Linked DNA regions of Homo sapiens: region 1 is linked to region 2. A link means that fine-mapping ties the variant in region 2 to the expression of a gene that starts in the linked region. Tissue or cell type: whole blood. Region 2 holds a variant in brackets; the other region holds the start of a gene. All regions are shown on one strand. Distances are between the middles of the regions.

The links. PIP is the estimated chance that this variant, and not a neighbour inherited with it, causes the effect.
Region 1: SELENOH starts here. The variant in region 2 is fine-mapped to the expression of SELENOH in whole blood (INTERVAL, PIP 0.92).

The regions. Positions count from the first base shown.
Region 1 is chr11:57,736,751-57,744,852 of GRCh38, forward strand. It overlaps SELENOH (selenoprotein H), which reads left to right and starts at 4,741. Exons shown (of 4, transcript NM_170746.4): 1 at 4,741-4,967; 2 at 5,059-5,204; 3 at 5,367-5,497; 4 at 6,113-6,800. The coding sequence starts at 4,846. The coding sequence ends at 5,467. It overlaps TMX2 (thioredoxin related transmembrane protein 2), which reads left to right. Exons shown (of 8, transcript NM_015959.4): 2 at 858-918; 3 at 1,163-1,276; 4 at 1,604-1,680; 5 at 1,914-2,020; 6 at 2,224-2,289; 7 at 2,381-2,510; 8 at 3,349-4,223. The coding sequence ends at 3,495. BTBD18 (BTB domain containing 18) reads right to left here. Exons shown (of 3, transcript NM_001145101.3): 3 at 6,764-8,102. The coding sequence ends at 7,384. TMX2-CTNND1 (TMX2-CTNND1 readthrough (NMD candidate)) reads left to right here. Exons shown (of 21, transcript NR_037646.1): 2 at 858-918. RefSeq lists enhancers at 4,443-4,562, 4,883-4,932, 5,083-5,252.
Region 2 is chr11:57,659,694-57,667,795 of GRCh38, forward strand. CLP1 (cleavage factor polyribonucleotide kinase subunit 1) reads left to right here. Exons shown (of 3, transcript NM_006831.3): 2 at 1-389; 3 at 1,072-2,172. The coding sequence ends at 1,743. Among named protein-coding and RNA genes, the nearest start is that of ZDHHC5, 4.4 kb to the right of the region's middle. RefSeq lists a silencer at 3,248-3,317 and an enhancer at 7,473-8,052. The variant G/A (reference allele first, on the strand shown) is at 3,092.

The DNA of each region.
Region 1 (8,102 bases), 77 kb after region 2:
AGTAGTGTGCGCCTGTAGTCCCAGCTACTTGGGAGGTTGAGTCAGGAGAAACACAAGCCCAGGTGGCAGAGGTTTCAGTGAGCTGAGATCACACCATTGCACTCTAGCCTGGGCGATGGAGCAAGACTGTCTCAAAAAAAAAAAAAAAATTAAACATGTGGAATAGCTAGATATTATATTAATGGGCTATTATCAAGAAAACTTACCTGGAAAAGTTTTATTCTACCAGCGTCACATTGAGTTGATATTAATAATCTTACGATTTTATACCATATCATGCTTTATACAACTCTTTTTAATCTGTTATCTCATTTAATCCCCCAGTAGCATTTTGAAATAGATACTGTTCAGTTGAGGAAACCAAAGCTAAGGGATTAAGTGCTTTGTTGAAAAGCACCGCAGGCCTGGCGCGGTGGCTCGTGCCTGTAATCTCAGCACTTTGGTGGATCACCTGAGGTCAGGAGTTTGAGACCAGCCTGGCCAACATGGTGAAACCCTGTCTCTACTAAAAATAAAAAAATTAGCCGGGTGTGGTGGCGCATGTCTGCAATCCCAGCTACCTGGGAGGCGGAGGTTGCAGTGAGCCGAGATCGCGCCATTGCACTCTAGCCTGGGCAACAAGAGTGAAACTCTGTCTCAAAAAGAAAAGCACCAGCAAGTTTGTGGCAGGAGTAGAACCTGAATCCAGGTCTTCTGACTGATGTTTATCCCCGTACACCTTACCTAACTGCAGTTCTTTATTGTTCCCATTCCCAGTTTGGATCGCTATTGGTTTTTATTACATATTTAGTTCCCTTTCCCACCTAAGTTAGCTCTAGTCACTGCATTCCTGTTATAATACTTCGATTCTGTTCCAGAGAGAAGTGGAGATCCTGATGTTTCTCAGTGCCATTGTGATGATGAAGAACCGCAGATCCAGTAAGTTTAGTTCACTTCTCAGACTCAAGGTTAGATCTAATGCCCTTTGGAGGTGCTTTGCTTCATGTTAAGAGAGTGGCAATCATTTGGTAAATTTGTCCTACGTTTAATTCCAAGGCTGAATTTGAACTTGGACTTCTATCCCCTCCCTGTCTCCTATTTCAAAGTGCCCCATGAAGAGGGACAAAGAATGGGATATAGGAGTGCACAGCCCAGCCTGACCTGTGACATCTCTGTGTTTCAGTCACTGTGGAGCAACATATAGGCAACATTTTCATGTTTAGTAAAGTGGCCAACACAATTCTTTTCTTCCGCTTGGATATTCGCATGGGCCTACTTTACATCACACTCTGCATAGGTGAGGAGACTGCCTTTCTTTCTTTTTTTTTTTTTGTAAGACTGTGTTGATAGACTTGATTGTGGAAACCACAGTCCCAACAGTTGCAATCCCAAACATGTTTCTCCATACCCTTCTTCCATATCTCATACCTAATGAATTATATATGTAGCTCAGATGATAACAGTTTACAGAGACTGTTATTGTAGAGGTAGGGAATGTGTTGGTGGTCTACATATATCCACAAGTGTGTATTATTTGGGGGCTGAAATCCTTGGGTTGGTTTGGAAGTAAATTCCCTGTGTAAGGCTTTTTATGTTTCCTTCGACATCTTCTTTCTGTATTTAGTGTTCCTGATGACGTGCAAACCCCCCCTATATATGGGCCCTGAGTATATCAAGTACTTCAATGATAAAACCATTGATGTGAGTGCTCTTTCCCCTTTCTGTTTCTTGGGTCCCTTGTGGGTGATTTTGTAGTTGTGCTCTCCATTCACTAGGAGGAACAACAGTGCTTCAAAATGGATGTCACGGGCACTGTGGTTCATTATGAGAGCCGGGGGAGAGGGAACACCAGGATGAGGAATTAGATGCTAAAGTCTGAACCTTCCCAGGAGGCTATGTGGATCCAGCTGACTTTTCTTCCCTGTATTTGGCAGGAGGAACTAGAACGGGACAAGAGGGTCACTTGGATTGTGGAGTTCTTTGCCAATTGGTCTAATGACTGCCAATCATTTGCCCCTATCTATGCTGACCTCTCCCTTAAGTGAGTAGTGCAAAGGGAGGGATGGTGGAAATGGAGATGCTGTGCCTTCCCTCTCACTGTTTTTGGCTTTTCTTTTTCTTTTGGCCTTGATTTTCACACATGGTAACCAAAGGCATCTCCCTCTCCCCTCTTAAATATCTATACTTCCACTTTCCTTGATCCATTATTTTTTTTCAGCATATTAAATAATATATTCTTTTCAGATACAACTGTACAGGGCTAAATTTTGGGAAGGTGGATGTTGGACGCTATACTGATGTTAGTACGCGGTATGTAAAGACCTGGGCAGAGGGTCTGAGCAGGGAAATCACTTTGAGTGATACATACAGGGACATTTAGAGAACTTTCTGGGCCCTGCAGGTACAAAGTGAGCACATCACCCCTCACCAAGCAACTCCCTACCCTGATCCTGTTCCAAGGTGGCAAGGAGGCAATGCGGCGGCCACAGATTGACAAGAAAGGACGGGCTGTCTCATGGACCTTCTCTGAGGTACCTGAAAGGAAGGGCAGGTGCATGAAGGGTGCAGAACAGTAGGTGGGCTTTCAAGCCCTACCCGGGTTTGATTCACAGCTCTGCCACTTGCCCATTAGCTTTGAGGGTGTGGACTAGTTACTAGACCTCATGTTTTAATTCATTTAGCAAATATATATTATGTGCAGACCTGCTAGTACTGGGTAACAATCATTAGTTAAGATTTGGTCTCAGGCCAGGCACGGTGGCTCACGCCTGTAATCCCAGCACTTTGGGAGGCCGAGGCTGGCAGATCACCTGAGGTCAGGAGTTTGAGACCAGCCTGACCAACATGGAGAAACCCCGTGTCTACTAAAAATACAAAAATAGCCGAGTGTGGTGGCGCATGCCTATAATGCCAGCTATTTGGGAGGCTGAGGCAGGAGAATCGCTTGAACCCGGGAGGTGGAGGTTGCAGTGAGCTGAGATTGCACCATTGCGGTCCAGCCTGGGCAACAAGAGACTCCATCAGGAAAAAAAAAAAAAGATTCTGTCTCGAAGGCCACTGCACCTATTGTCTGTAGGTGTTAGGTTCCCTGTCAGTTAATTGGAGGTAATAACCCCTGGCTTACAGGGTTGTTTTGCAGATTACATTAAATAATTTAGGTATAATTCTTGGCACGGTGATTGGCACATAATGGGTATTTAACTATTAGTTGACTTTTCTGGGTACCTAAAAAAGAGGAAGGTTAGGGAAGATTTTTGTCCTTTGCTTACTCCTTCCTTTCCCAGACTTTGTGTAAAATACCTCTTACTTCCCAGGCTCTTTACTCTCCCTTCCAACCCAGATCCTGACGTGTGCATCTCTTTTGTGCAGGAGAATGTGATCCGAGAATTTAACTTAAATGAGCTATACCAGCGGGCCAAGAAACTATCAAAGGCTGGAGACAATATCCCTGAGGAGCAGCCTGTGGCTTCAACCCCCACCACAGTGTCAGATGGGGAAAACAAGAAGGATAAATAAGATCCTCACTTTGGCAGTGCTTCCTCTCCTGTCAATTCCAGGCTCTTTCCATAACCACAAGCCTGAGGCTGCAGCCTTTTATTTATGTTTTCCCTTTGGCTGTGACTGGGTGGGGCAGCATGCAGCTTCTGATTTTAAAGAGGCATCTAGGGAATTGTCAGGCACCCTACAGGAAGGCCTGCCATGCTGTGGCCAACTGTTTCACTGGAGCAAGAAAGAGATCTCATAGGACGGAGGGGGAAATGGTTTCCCTCCAAGCTTGGGTCAGTGTGTTAACTGCTTATCAGCTATTCAGACATCTCCATGGTTTCTCCATGAAACTCTGTGGTTTCATCATTCCTTCTTAGTTGACCTGCACAGCTTGGTTAGACCTAGATTTAACCCTAAGGTAAGATGCTGGGGTATAGAACGCTAAGAATTTTCCCCCAAGGACTCTTGCTTCCTTAAGCCCTTCTGGCTTCGTTTATGGTCTTCATTAAAAGTATAAGCCTAACTTTGTCGCTAGTCCTAAGGAGAAACCTTTAACCACAAAGTTTTTATCATTGAAGACAATATTGAACAACCCCCTATTTTGTGGGGATTGAGAAGGGGTGAATAGAGGCTTGAGACTTTCCTTTGTGTGGTAGGACTTGGAGGAGAAATCCCCTGGACTTTCACTAACCCTCTGACATACTCCCCACACCCAGTTGATGGCTTTCCGTAATAAAAAGATTGGGATTTCCTTTTGATTGCGCGTTTGTGTGTTTCTGTATTAGAAAAGCCTGACAACTGCAGAGGAATTGCCCATCTTAAGGGCAAAGGCCATCCTATTTGGTTTCACCAAATGCCGGGCATTGATCCCCAGGACTGGCAAGAGTTGGAGAAGTCTAGTTTCCATAAATCTAGAATAGCGGCCACATGTTGTTAGGTGGTGGGTTTACTCTGGGATTGGCCTGCGGTTGCCAGGGAGGAGAGTTTGGCGGCAGATGGTGGCACACAACATTTAGCGCCATGCAAAGGTACAGAAAAGATTGCGCGAAGCGAGGCTAGCAGTCGGACCTAGTCTCCGCCCCTTCCTGCTGTGTTCACCATCCCAGCGTCCCCTGTCCCCTCCACCCGAAGCGATGGGTGGTTCCGTCAGGCGCTTCCCGCACCTTCCCGCTCCCTGCTTGCAAAGTGGTTGTGCCCCAAGGTCCGCCTCCAGGCCACGTGGGTGCTGCGGGCCAAGCTTTCCCTTCCTTTGAGAGAGGTTTCCGCTGTAGGAGCAGAGCTTCCGGGCTGCGCTCTTCGTTGCCCAGTTTCCGCTCAGTGGTCGCGTCTCCGCCCCCCACCCACCAGTCCCGCTGCATTCTCGGCCGGGCTCTAGGCGCCATGGCTCCCCGCGGGAGGAAGCGTAAGGCTGAGGCCGCGGTGGTCGCCGTAGCCGAGAAGCGAGAGAAGCTGGCGAACGGCGGGGAGGGAATGGAGGAGGCGACCGTTGTTATCGAGCATTGGTGAGGGGCCTGGAGAGTAACGGGAGAGAGGGAACAGTGGCGCCGGGGGGGGCCAGGGGCCCCGGTTTCTAACCTCTCCGTCTCTCCCTAGCACTAGCTGACGCGTCTATGGGCGCAACGCCGCGGCCCTGAGCCAGGCGCTGCGCCTGGAGGCCCCAGAGCTTCCAGTAAAGGTGAACCCGACGAAGCCCCGGAGGGGCAGCTTCGAGGTGACGCTGCTGCGCCCGGACGGCAGCAGTAAGTGGGGACCTGGATGTGGGGGAGAGGGACGTGGGTGAAAGGGACGTGGGTTCCGAAGACAGGAAGCGCTATTCTTAGAAACCACGGCAGTCTCATGACTTCAGAGACGTGCTCGTGGGTTCCGAAGTATTGTAACTTCGCTTCATTCTGGCCTTTCAGGTGCGGAGCTCTGGACTGGGATTAAGAAGGGGCCCCCACGCAAACTCAAATTCCCTGAGCCTCAAGAGGTGGTGGAAGAGTTGAAGAAGTACCTGTCGTAGGGAGATTTGGGTAGAAGCCCTCATGCTGAGGTTTGAAATGGGAAGTGGGGGGCGCGACCGCTGTTGAGGAAGAGAAGGCATTGATCTTGGTGTGGCTACAAGTACCCACCTGGCGTGGGTAGCTCACGCCTGCAATCCCAGCACTCTGGGAGGTCGAGGCAGGAGTGGATGGCCAACACAGGGAGACCCTATTTGAAAACAAAAAACAAAAAAAAGACACAATATTGTTTTCTGTCTAGTGTGCCCTAAGTGGAATTTATGTCCTTTGGGAGACTGTAGTTGACTTGCCCTGGGGGTATGGACAAGTTTTCCATTTGGAAGTTTATTTCATGTTACTTCATTTATGCTTATCCCTACCCTCTTCTGTTTGGTTCTTGGGTGTTCTGTTACTGTCCTGTGTTAACACTGCATTACAATACCATTAAATTTGGTTACAAGGATTTTGACCTTGTCTTTGTCCCTAGTGCTTCATACAGTGCTTTGGCATGTTGTTCTGCACTTATTATGTTGAGTGAGATTTGGAGGAAGGATGCAATCCTTGAGCTTCAGGGTTTGTGAGTTCAAGGGTTGGGGAACATGTCTTCCTCAGTCCTTAAGATTGCCCAGATCCTTTCTCTAACCTTATTTCCCTTCTCATTTTTGCAGCTTTGTGTCCCTGGTGATGTTGGAACATTAATGATGGAACATGGCCAAACTTCAGTCATGATCCTGAAGCCATGGTTTCTTCCCTGCCAGAAATGAAGGTTCAGTTATGAGGCAACCCTCTAGTAAGGCATTGTAAAAGTTACTGGATTTGGTTTAATAAAAGTTGAAATAAAGTATTTGAGTAATAGAGTAAAACTTAATCTTAAGGGATGGACAAAGCCAGCCTTGTGGAGTTGGTAGTCCTTGTGTTTTTCATAGCCCAAGATAGCCATGTGACCTGGAACTTTTAAAAAAAAATTTTTTTTTAAGAGCCAGAGTCTCACTTTGTCACCCATGCTGGAGTATAGTGGTGCTATCTCGGCTCACTGCAACCATTGTCTCCCAGGTTCAAGCGATACTCCTGCCTCAGTCTCCTGAGTAGCTGGGATCACAGGTGCACACCACCACGCCTGGCTAATTTTTTTATTTTTATTTTTAGTAAAGGCGGGGTTTCACCATGTTGGCCAGGCTGGTCTCAAACTCCTGACCTCAAGTGATATGCCTGCCTTGACCTCCCAAAGTGCTGGGGTTACAGGCATGATGAGCCACCGCACCTGGCCTGACCTGCAACTTTTATGATCTCTGGTAAAACATGAGAAATACTTGTAAAAATTATGGGAGCAAAGTAAATAATTTATTTTTTAAAAAAGCAACTGTATCTTTTTCAACTTACTTTTTGGAAGTAATGATGGAAGTACATCTTCTTGGCCCCTGCAGAGGTTTTAGCTAGACTTCCTAATACTGGCAGTGAATAAGCCCCACGTTGGGTGCTGGACAGCATCCATCACTCCCACCCACTTAGTATTCCACCCAACACTGCTTCACACCTTCCTCTGGAACATTTTCTTAAACAATACCCCACCACAGAGGAGGGTGTTCTTTCTCAGCTTTTCCTAAATTACCAGTGACTGGATGCCTTATGACCTGAGAGATCTGGCCTTGGCTGTTACCTATGACCCACCAGAATTGGGGAGCACACAGTTTGTTTCAGTTGTCACTAACCGGAAAATAGATTACAAATAAGATGGTACAAGTTCATAATTTTCTATCTATGGTACCCTTGGCTTCTGCCTGGCTTCTGAGGCTTAGGGAAGGGAGGAAGGGACCTACAAAGAGCCAGGGTACACCTGCCTCTTGTGCTGAGGGCACGTGCCAGCTTCTCTGCCAGTAAGCCTTTTGCTAGCTAACATTTCCCACCCTCCCAAGGCCCCTAACCTGCCCTCCCCTCTCCACTATGTTAGTATATCTACCTCTGTTTCTGACTCTGAGGAAGGGTCAGGCCACACGGAGGGAACAGTAGTGGGTACCAGCCTCCCCTCTGCTGTCCAGTCCACCACATCAATCTCTTCCTCTTCAGAGCTGGCAGGAAGTGAGCCTAGTAGTTCAGAGTGACCAGATACCTCCTTGCCTGCCTTGGGAGAAGGGTATAATAACTCATCTGTAGTCAAGGAGACTTCCAGCCCAGTCTCCACCCAGTTTGAGCAGGGAGGTGAGAGGTCCCCATAAGACCTCTGGGGAGTATCAAGGGAGCTGACATGGAGAAGTTTGTCTTCCTGACCATCCAGTGGCTGGGAGCTGGTAATTTCAAGGTCTGGTGTCCAACGGCCTCCTACTGAAAGCACTTCACTCACCTCAGAGGGCATGACAAGGGGGCTAAGGAGCTCAGTTGGCCCTCTGTTCTCACCAGCAGGTTCCTTTTCCAATTCTGTGAGCTCCCTGGGCCAGAGTTCCATGTCTGGTAGACACCATTCTTCCCCTTCAATCCAGTTCTTTCCTGTTTCTGTCAGATGGTAGGTAGGCGTTCTGCAGCCCTCAGCCCCTGGACTCTCCAGAGACCCTATAGGTGGTTCAATGTCTGAGCCACAGAGCATGAAGTCCAGGATCTCCTCCAGCTCACTGGTGGCAGCAGCACTTGTGATTCGGTACTCCTCAGCCTCACAGGGCTGCTCCA
Region 2 (8,102 bases):
TGCAACTGAGCGGCCGCACTGAGGTGGCTTATGTCTCCAAGGACACTCCTATGTTGCTTTACCTCAACACTCACACAGCCTTGGAACAGATGCGGAGGCAAGCGGAAAAGGAAGAAGAGCGAGGTCCCCGAGTGATGGTAGTGGGCCCCACTGATGTGGGCAAGTCTACAGTGTGTCGCCTTCTGCTCAACTACGCAGTGCGTTTGGGCCGCCGTCCCACTTATGTGGAGCTGGATGTGGGCCAGGGTTCTGTGTCCATCCCTGGTACCATGGGGGCCCTCTACATCGAGCGGCCTGCAGATGTCGAAGAGGGTTTCTCTATCCAGGCCCCTCTGGTGTATCATTTTGGTTCCACCACTCCTGGCACTAACATCAAGCTTTATAATAAGGTCAGAGCCAGAGAAAGGTGGGGTGGAGGGAAGGGCTGCTATCAGGGTAGGAAACTGGAGAAGTTTACTAGTTAACACTGCATTTTCTCAGCTGGTATTTCTGCTGCATTACTTTAGAAAGGCAATTCCAAATATGTCAGTCTCAGATTGTTAAACATTTCTGTGGATCTATTCTTAGTAATTTGTTAGATTTTCACTTAGGGCATAAAACAGGAGGCAGAAGCAGCAACATAAAAATTAAATCCATGTTATGGTATCAAAACTACAGCCATTAAAAATGTCATTTTTTCAGGCTGGGTACAGTGGCTCATGCCTGTAATCCCACAACTTGGGAGGCTGAGACGGGTGGATCACCTGAGGTCAGGAGTTGGAGAGCAGCCTGGCCAACATGGTGAAACCTTGTCTCTACTAAAAATACAAAAAGTAGCTGGGCGTGGTGGCTGGTGCCTGTAATCCCAGCTGTTCAGAGACTGAGGCAGGAGAATCACTTGAACGCGGGAGGTGGAGGTTGCAGTGAGCTGAGATCGTGCCACTGCACTCCATCCTGGGCAACAGAGTGAGACTCCATTTCAAAAAAAAAATCATTTTTCTTATATCTAATAGCACTTATTCTAAAGAGGAACAAAGTAGCCATGGGTTTGTCTGGGTGTTTTTGTTCTTACCTTGATCCTCTCTTTTGCAGATTACATCTCGTTTAGCAGATGTGTTCAACCAAAGGTGTGAGGTGAACCGAAGGGCATCTGTGAGTGGCTGTGTCATTAACACCTGTGGCTGGGTCAAGGGCTCTGGTTACCAGGCTCTGGTGCATGCAGCCTCAGCTTTTGAGGTGGATGTCGTTGTTGTTCTGGATCAAGAACGACTGTACAATGAACTGAAACGGGACCTCCCCCACTTTGTACGCACTGTGCTGCTCCCTAAATCTGGGGGTGTGGTGGAGCGCTCCAAGGACTTCCGGCGGGAATGTAGGGATGAGCGTATCCGTGAGTATTTTTATGGATTCCGAGGCTGTTTCTATCCCCATGCCTTCAATGTCAAATTTTCAGATGTGAAAATCTACAAAGTTGGGGCACCCACCATCCCAGACTCCTGTTTACCTTTGGGCATGTCTCAAGAGGATAATCAGCTCAAGCTAGTACCTGTCACTCCTGGGCGAGATATGGTGCACCACCTACTGAGTGTTAGCACTGCCGAGGGTACAGAGGAGAACCTGTCCGAGACAAGTGTAGCTGGCTTCATTGTGGTGACCAGTGTGGACCTGGAGCATCAGGTGTTTACTGTTCTGTCTCCAGCCCCTCGCCCACTGCCTAAGAACTTCCTTCTCATCATGGATATCCGGTTCATGGATCTGAAGTAGAGATCAGCAGGAAGCCTTGCTGCCTGGGACATAGAGATCATCTGGCCACCCCTAGAGGCAGATGGGCTGAGATAAAAGACTGTTGGGGCCACCTGACCAGTAAACTGTGGACTAGTAGAAAGTTCATATTCTACCTCTAAAAACAGGTAGTGGTAACCTGACTCTTCTAATCTTGAACCAAAAGGAAAACCATGAGACTGTAATTGGTTTCTTAGACCACCTAAGATGCCACTTTGAATTCTCTAAGACCCTGGAGAATTGCATTTCTTTCACTGTGCTACTATGTGGTTTTTAAAAAATCAATGCTTTATATTCCATATGTGGTTCTTACCCATTTATCTAGGATGAAAGTGTGAATTAGAGGGACTCCTTCCAATAAAGTTCAAACTTAAAAAAAATCATTTTAATAAATATTTTTGCCATATCATAGAAGTTGGTATAATTTATTTTTTTCCCCTAAGCGTTATAGAAACATAATTGGAATGATTTATTGCTAAAATGCTTGGAGGAGGGGAAAACCAAGAAACCTACCTGTGAGCCACGTCAGGTTTTTTTTTTTGGTGGTGGTGGTGGTTGTTTTTGTAAGAGTCTCACACTGTCACCTGGGCTGGAGTGCAGTGGCGTGATCTTGGCTCACTGCAACCTCTGCCTCCCAGGTTCAAGTGATTCTCCTGCCTCAGCCTCCCAAATAGCTGGGGTTACAGGTGCCCGCCACCACGCCCAGCTAATTTTTTGTATTTCTTTTAGTAGGGACAGGGTTTCACTATGTTGGCCAGGCTGGTCTCAAACTCCTGACCTCATGATCTGCCTGCCTCGGCCTCCCAAAATGCTGGGATTACAGGTGTGAGACACTGTGCCCGGCTGTGAGTTCTTATGATAGTTCACCTTTCCTCTGCGCTTAGGTAAGTAGATGGTAAATCTGCTGTCAGTGCTGGATTTACTGTGGGGAGTTAGAGGCTGGTGATAATCTTGGAATGAGATTTCATATCTAATCATTTTCCAGAGATAGCTCATTTTCCTTCCAGTACAGCTATCCTTGTCTATTTGATTGGAACTAGGCCCTAAGTCAAAGTGTAACTTAAGCTTTCAGGTGGTAAGAAACTGGGAAAGCCCATTCTTTTTGATCTCTTGCAAATGACTGTTTGGTGTCCCTGGTTTGCACTTGGATTACTTAAGTATCTGATGCCATTCATCCATTCCTTCTTTTCATAAATGTTTACTGAGGACTGACTGTTTGTCAGGAGCCACTGTAGATGGGGAACAAGACAGACAAAAGTTTTATGGAGCTTACATTATAGAATAAACAAATTTAAAAAGGCAAGTGCTATGCAGAGACTTAAATTTGGGG[G/A]ATATGAGACAGAGTGACTGGAGGCTACTTTAGATTGGGTGGTCAGGAAAGGCCCTTCCTGAGCATACATTTTGGGCTAAGACTTGAATGGCTGTGTGAAGTCTGGGGCAAAACCTTCCTGGTGAGAAAAAACTGCAAAACCCTAATAAAGGAACAAGCTTGATGAGTTTGGTGAAGAGAAAAGCCAGTGTGGTTGAAGCTTAGTGAACCAAGAAAGACTGTACAAGATGAGGCTGGAGGGGGCAGCAAAGACCAGATAATGTAGGGCTTTTGTAAACCACGGTGAAGAATGGATTTTTTGGCCCAGGTGCCATGGGTGGTGGCCATGCCTTTAACCCCAGCCACTCAGGAGTCTGAGAATCCCTTGAACCCAAGAGGTGGAGGTGCAGAAAGCCGAGATTGCATCACTGCATTCCAGTCTAGGTGACAGAAGGACACTCTGTCTCAAAAAAAGAAAAGGATTTTTTATTTCTTTTTAAGAGATAGGGATCTCAGCCGGGCGTGGTGGCTCATGCCTGTAATCCCAGCACTTTGGGAGGCTGAGGTGGCTGGATCACTTGGGGTCAGGAGTTCGAGACCAGCCTGACCAACATGGTGAAACCCCATCTCTACTAAAAATGCAAAAAAAATTTAGTTGAGCGTGGTGGCACATGCTTGTAATCCCAGTTACTTGGGAGGTTGAGGCAAGAGAATTGCTTGAACCCGGGAGGTGGAGGTTGCCGTGAGCCAAGATCACGCCACTGCACTCCAGCCTAGGCAATAAGAGCGAAACTCTGACTCAAAAAAAAAAAAAAAAAAAAAGAGATGGGGCGTGTCTCACTATGTTGCCCAAGCTGGCTTTGAACTTCTGGGCTTAAGTGATCCGCCCACCTTAGTCTCCTGAGTAGCTGGGACTACAGGCTCATGCCACAGCACCTGGTTTAAGAATGGATTTTACTCTTAAGAGCAATGGGAACCAGAGGGGAGGGGTAGTTAAGTAGAGTAATTATTTGATCTTTTTTTTTTTGGGGGGGGACAGAGTTTCATTCTTGTTGCCCAGGCTGGAGTGCAATGGCGCAATCTGGCTCAGTGCAACCTCCACCTCCCAGGTTCAAGCGAGTCTCCTGCCTCAGCCTCCCGAGTAGCTGGGATTACAGGCATGCGCCACCATGCCCGGCTAATTTTGTGTTTTTAGTATAGATGGGGTTTCTCCGTGTTGGTCAGGTTTGTCTCCGACTCCCGACTTCAGGTGATCCGCCCGCCTAGGCCTCCCAAAGTGTGGGATTACAGGCGTAAGCCAGCACGCCCGGCTGATCTCCTCCCTCCCTTCCCTCTTTCTTTCTTCCTTTCCTTTCTTTTCCTTTCCTTTCCTTTCCTCTTTCCTCTCTCCCTCCTTCCTGCTCTCTTTTTCTTCTCTCTTTTTTCTTCTCTTTTTCATTCCTTCCCCTTCCTTCCTATTCCTTCCTTTCCTTTCCTTCCCTCACCTCCTCTCCTCTCTCCTCCCCTTCCCTCCCCCTTTCCTTCCCTCCTTCTGAGTTTTGCTATGTTGCCCAGGCTAGAGTGCTGTGGCATGACCTCGGTGCACTGCAACCTCTGCCTCCTGGGTTCAAGTTATTCTCCTGCCTCAGCCTCCTGAGTAGCTGAGTAGCATGCACCACCATGCCTGGCGAATTTTTGTATTTTTAGTAGAGATGGGGTTTTGCCATGTTGGCCAGGCTGGTCTCGAACTCCTGACCTCAAGTGATCCATCCGCCTCGGACTCCCAAAGTGCTGGGATTAGCCTGGCTGATTACTTTACATTTTGAAAAGATCACTGCTTTGTGGAGAGTGGGTTATAGGGCAAGTGTAAAAGCAAGGACAGTAATTAGGAGAGTTTTGTAAAAGTGCAAATGTGAGAAATGGTGGGGGATGAAATACTAGGGCAGCAGAGGTAGAGCTGGTGAGAGGATATTCTGAAGGCAGGACTTCATAACGGAGTGGTGAGGAAAACGATGGAATCAAGGATGCATCCTGGATTTTTTTTAACAAGACACACTAGGTTAGACATGAGATTGGGAAAACTCAGGGAGTTGTCCCCCTGAGGGACAAGGGAAACTCGAGGTTTTTGGCAGTGTTAAATATGAGCTATTAATTGTCCATGGGTGGCGGAGGTTGCAGTGAGCTGAGATCGCGTCACTGCACTCCAGCCTGGGTAACAGAGCAAGACTCCATCCCCCAGCACCAGAAAAAATGCAGGAGCGAAGGAGATAGGATCCACAGCACAAAGGGAAGAACTACCCTTTAACACATACAGAGACATTTCACAAGGACAGGAGGAAAGAGCAGTATTTAAACACAAAGAGGTTGACCAGGAGCAGTGGCTCAGACCTGTAATCCCAGCACTTTGGGAGGTCGAGGCAGGCAGATCACTTGAGCTCAGCAGTTGGAGACTACCCTGGCCAACATGGTGAAACCCTAAAAACACAAAAATTGGGAAATGCATGTTCTAGCTTTCTGTGTGCTTAGGTGCCCATGCTACTGAGGGTCTAAGTCCAGGCAGCCGAAGAGTGTGGTGAGCAAGATGAACAAAGATGCGCAGATGAGAGAAGCCATTAACATATTAAAGTAATTTAAAGTTTGGGTGGTCTGGATATCATACTGTTTTAGCCTAGATTTTACTCTGGATACTTTTCAGAAGTAGCTGGCACTTTAAACCATATGTTCTATTAAACGTTCTTTCCAAGAAATATCTTGAGTGATCCCAAGGAAAACTGGACAAGTGGAATCTCTGTCTTTCAACTTTGGGATAGTGATTATACCTCTGTTAGTGCTCATCCACCTAACAAAGCTTGGCAATCCAAGTTAGTATCCCAGGGGAGTTTAGTTTGGTTGGATGGTGGAAGACTGATTTTTTTTTTCCATTTAGCACTGTCTAGCCAAGAGACACCACTATTTACAAGTTCTTAGACAGCTGAAAGGAAAATAAAAATGCCTAATTTGTGGAGGAAATCAGGAAGTCTAAAAATCCAAGAAAAATATTGCAACAGAAAAATGAAAGCTGACTTCATCTTAAAGAAACATGGCTTACAGGTAGAAAATGCCAATATCAGGCCGGGCACTGTGGCTCACACCGGTAATCTCAGCACTTTGGGAGGCCGAGGTGGGAGGATCATTTGAGGTCAGGAGTTCCAGACCAATGTGGCCATCATGGTGAAACCCCATCTCTACTAAAAATACAAATATTAGCCAGGTGTGGTGGCACATGCCTGTGATCCCAGCTACTCAGGAGGCTGAGGCATGAGAATTGCTTGAACCCGGGAGGAGGTTGCCATGAGCTGAGATCGCGCCACTGCACTCCAGCCTGGGTGACAGTGTGAGACTCCCTCTCAAAAAGTAAAAAATAAAATATCAATATTGTATCTTCAATAATTTACCTTTCATATGGTCTAAAGAGGTTTTTGTTTTGTTTTGAGACGGAGTCTTGCTCTGTTGCCCAGGCTGGAGTGAAGTTGTGTGGTCTCGGCTCACGGCAACCTCTGCCTCCCGGGTTGAAGCAATTCTCCTGCCTCAGCCTCCCGAGTAGCTGGGATTACAGGCTCCCCCGACCATGCCCGACTAATTTTTGTATTTTTAGTAGAGGGAGTTTCACTATGTTGGCCAGGCTGGTCTTGAGCACCTGACCTCGTGATCCGCCTGCCTTGGCCTCCCAAAGTGCTGGGATTACAGGTGTGAACCACCACGCCAGGCCAGGTCTGTTTTAAAAATATAAAGTCGTTATAAAGAACTCTCAAGTGTGTTGCAATAAATGCTGGATTGACGCTGTTAACAAGAATAAACTAGAACTTATAATATATGCCATGTCAGAGAAGGAACTAGATTCCAGAAAACAGAAGGTAGTTCTCTTTTACCTTACTGCCTAATGCTAGTGTCAGAACCACAGTAAAGCCAGCAACATTTGAGACCAAACCCGAGGACAGTCCTCAGGATTTTACAGGTGAGGGGCCTCGGCTTCAGGGAAGTGGCTTGTGAAACACCTTTTTGAGGGACCATTATGTAATAGCTAGAGTTGCTTTCGAAAAAAGAAATAGCCTCGAGCCGAATGGGGAGAGAACATGGGGCATTGCTATTGGGTTCACAGCTGTCTTGGGCTAATCAGGGCAAAGCGTAGCACTATGACCTATGCAGAGTTAGCTCGCCAGGGACAGTAGCTATTCTAGAGAACCTTTTGCTTTTAGCTTTGTATTCTAGGATTGGGTGAGGTGAGGGATGCGGGCGCCCATCCCACGTGTGACAGTGGGAAACTAATGGAATTCAGGGAGTTCACTTCCCGGCTCGCACTCCGGGGGCGGGAGGGTGCTGCCACCGCCTCAGGTCGCGCGCTCCTTAGGCTTCCCTCTCACGGTTAGCGCTACGGCTCCAAGGCTGGCGCCTGCTCTTCTTCATCTCCCTCCCCGGCCCTTGGCAGGAGCCTCGCCCTACATTGGCTCTTCAAGTCCGGGCGTCCCCTTCATGTGGGAGACACAGCCCAGACCATTCCATCGCCCTGGATTCTGCCCGGACCAGCGACCTCGCCGGACTGAAGATTTCTCCAGCAAGATTGTTTTAAATAAAGTTTTTGCCATCAAAAAAAAAAAAAAAAAAAAAAAAGGAGATGGGAAGGAGAAGAGGGAGGCCTAGTCGCCAAATGGTTGGCCAATCCGCCGCGAAGGGGCTGAAGCAGGAAGCGGCGATAGTCGTCGGTAATTGGCTGCGCTGGAAGCCTGTCTGGACTGTACCACCTCAGTAGGAGAGGGGTTGCTGAATTCGAGAAGGTAGCTGCTTGCTTTTGAGTACTTCTAGTACACACACATAATTCTTTTCTTATTTCCGGGGGTTTTTGCTTGGATTCAGTGGGAATACAACAGGACGCAGGAGAAGGGAAGACTCGCCTGGCCATTTCCTCATTCCTGACTCCTGTGCATTAGGCCAATCCTTGTCTCTTAGTTGTCCCCGCAACCCCACGGCCTTACGTGCGCGCTCTCGTCTTCTCGCGTGCGTACGTCGTTGTGTTGCT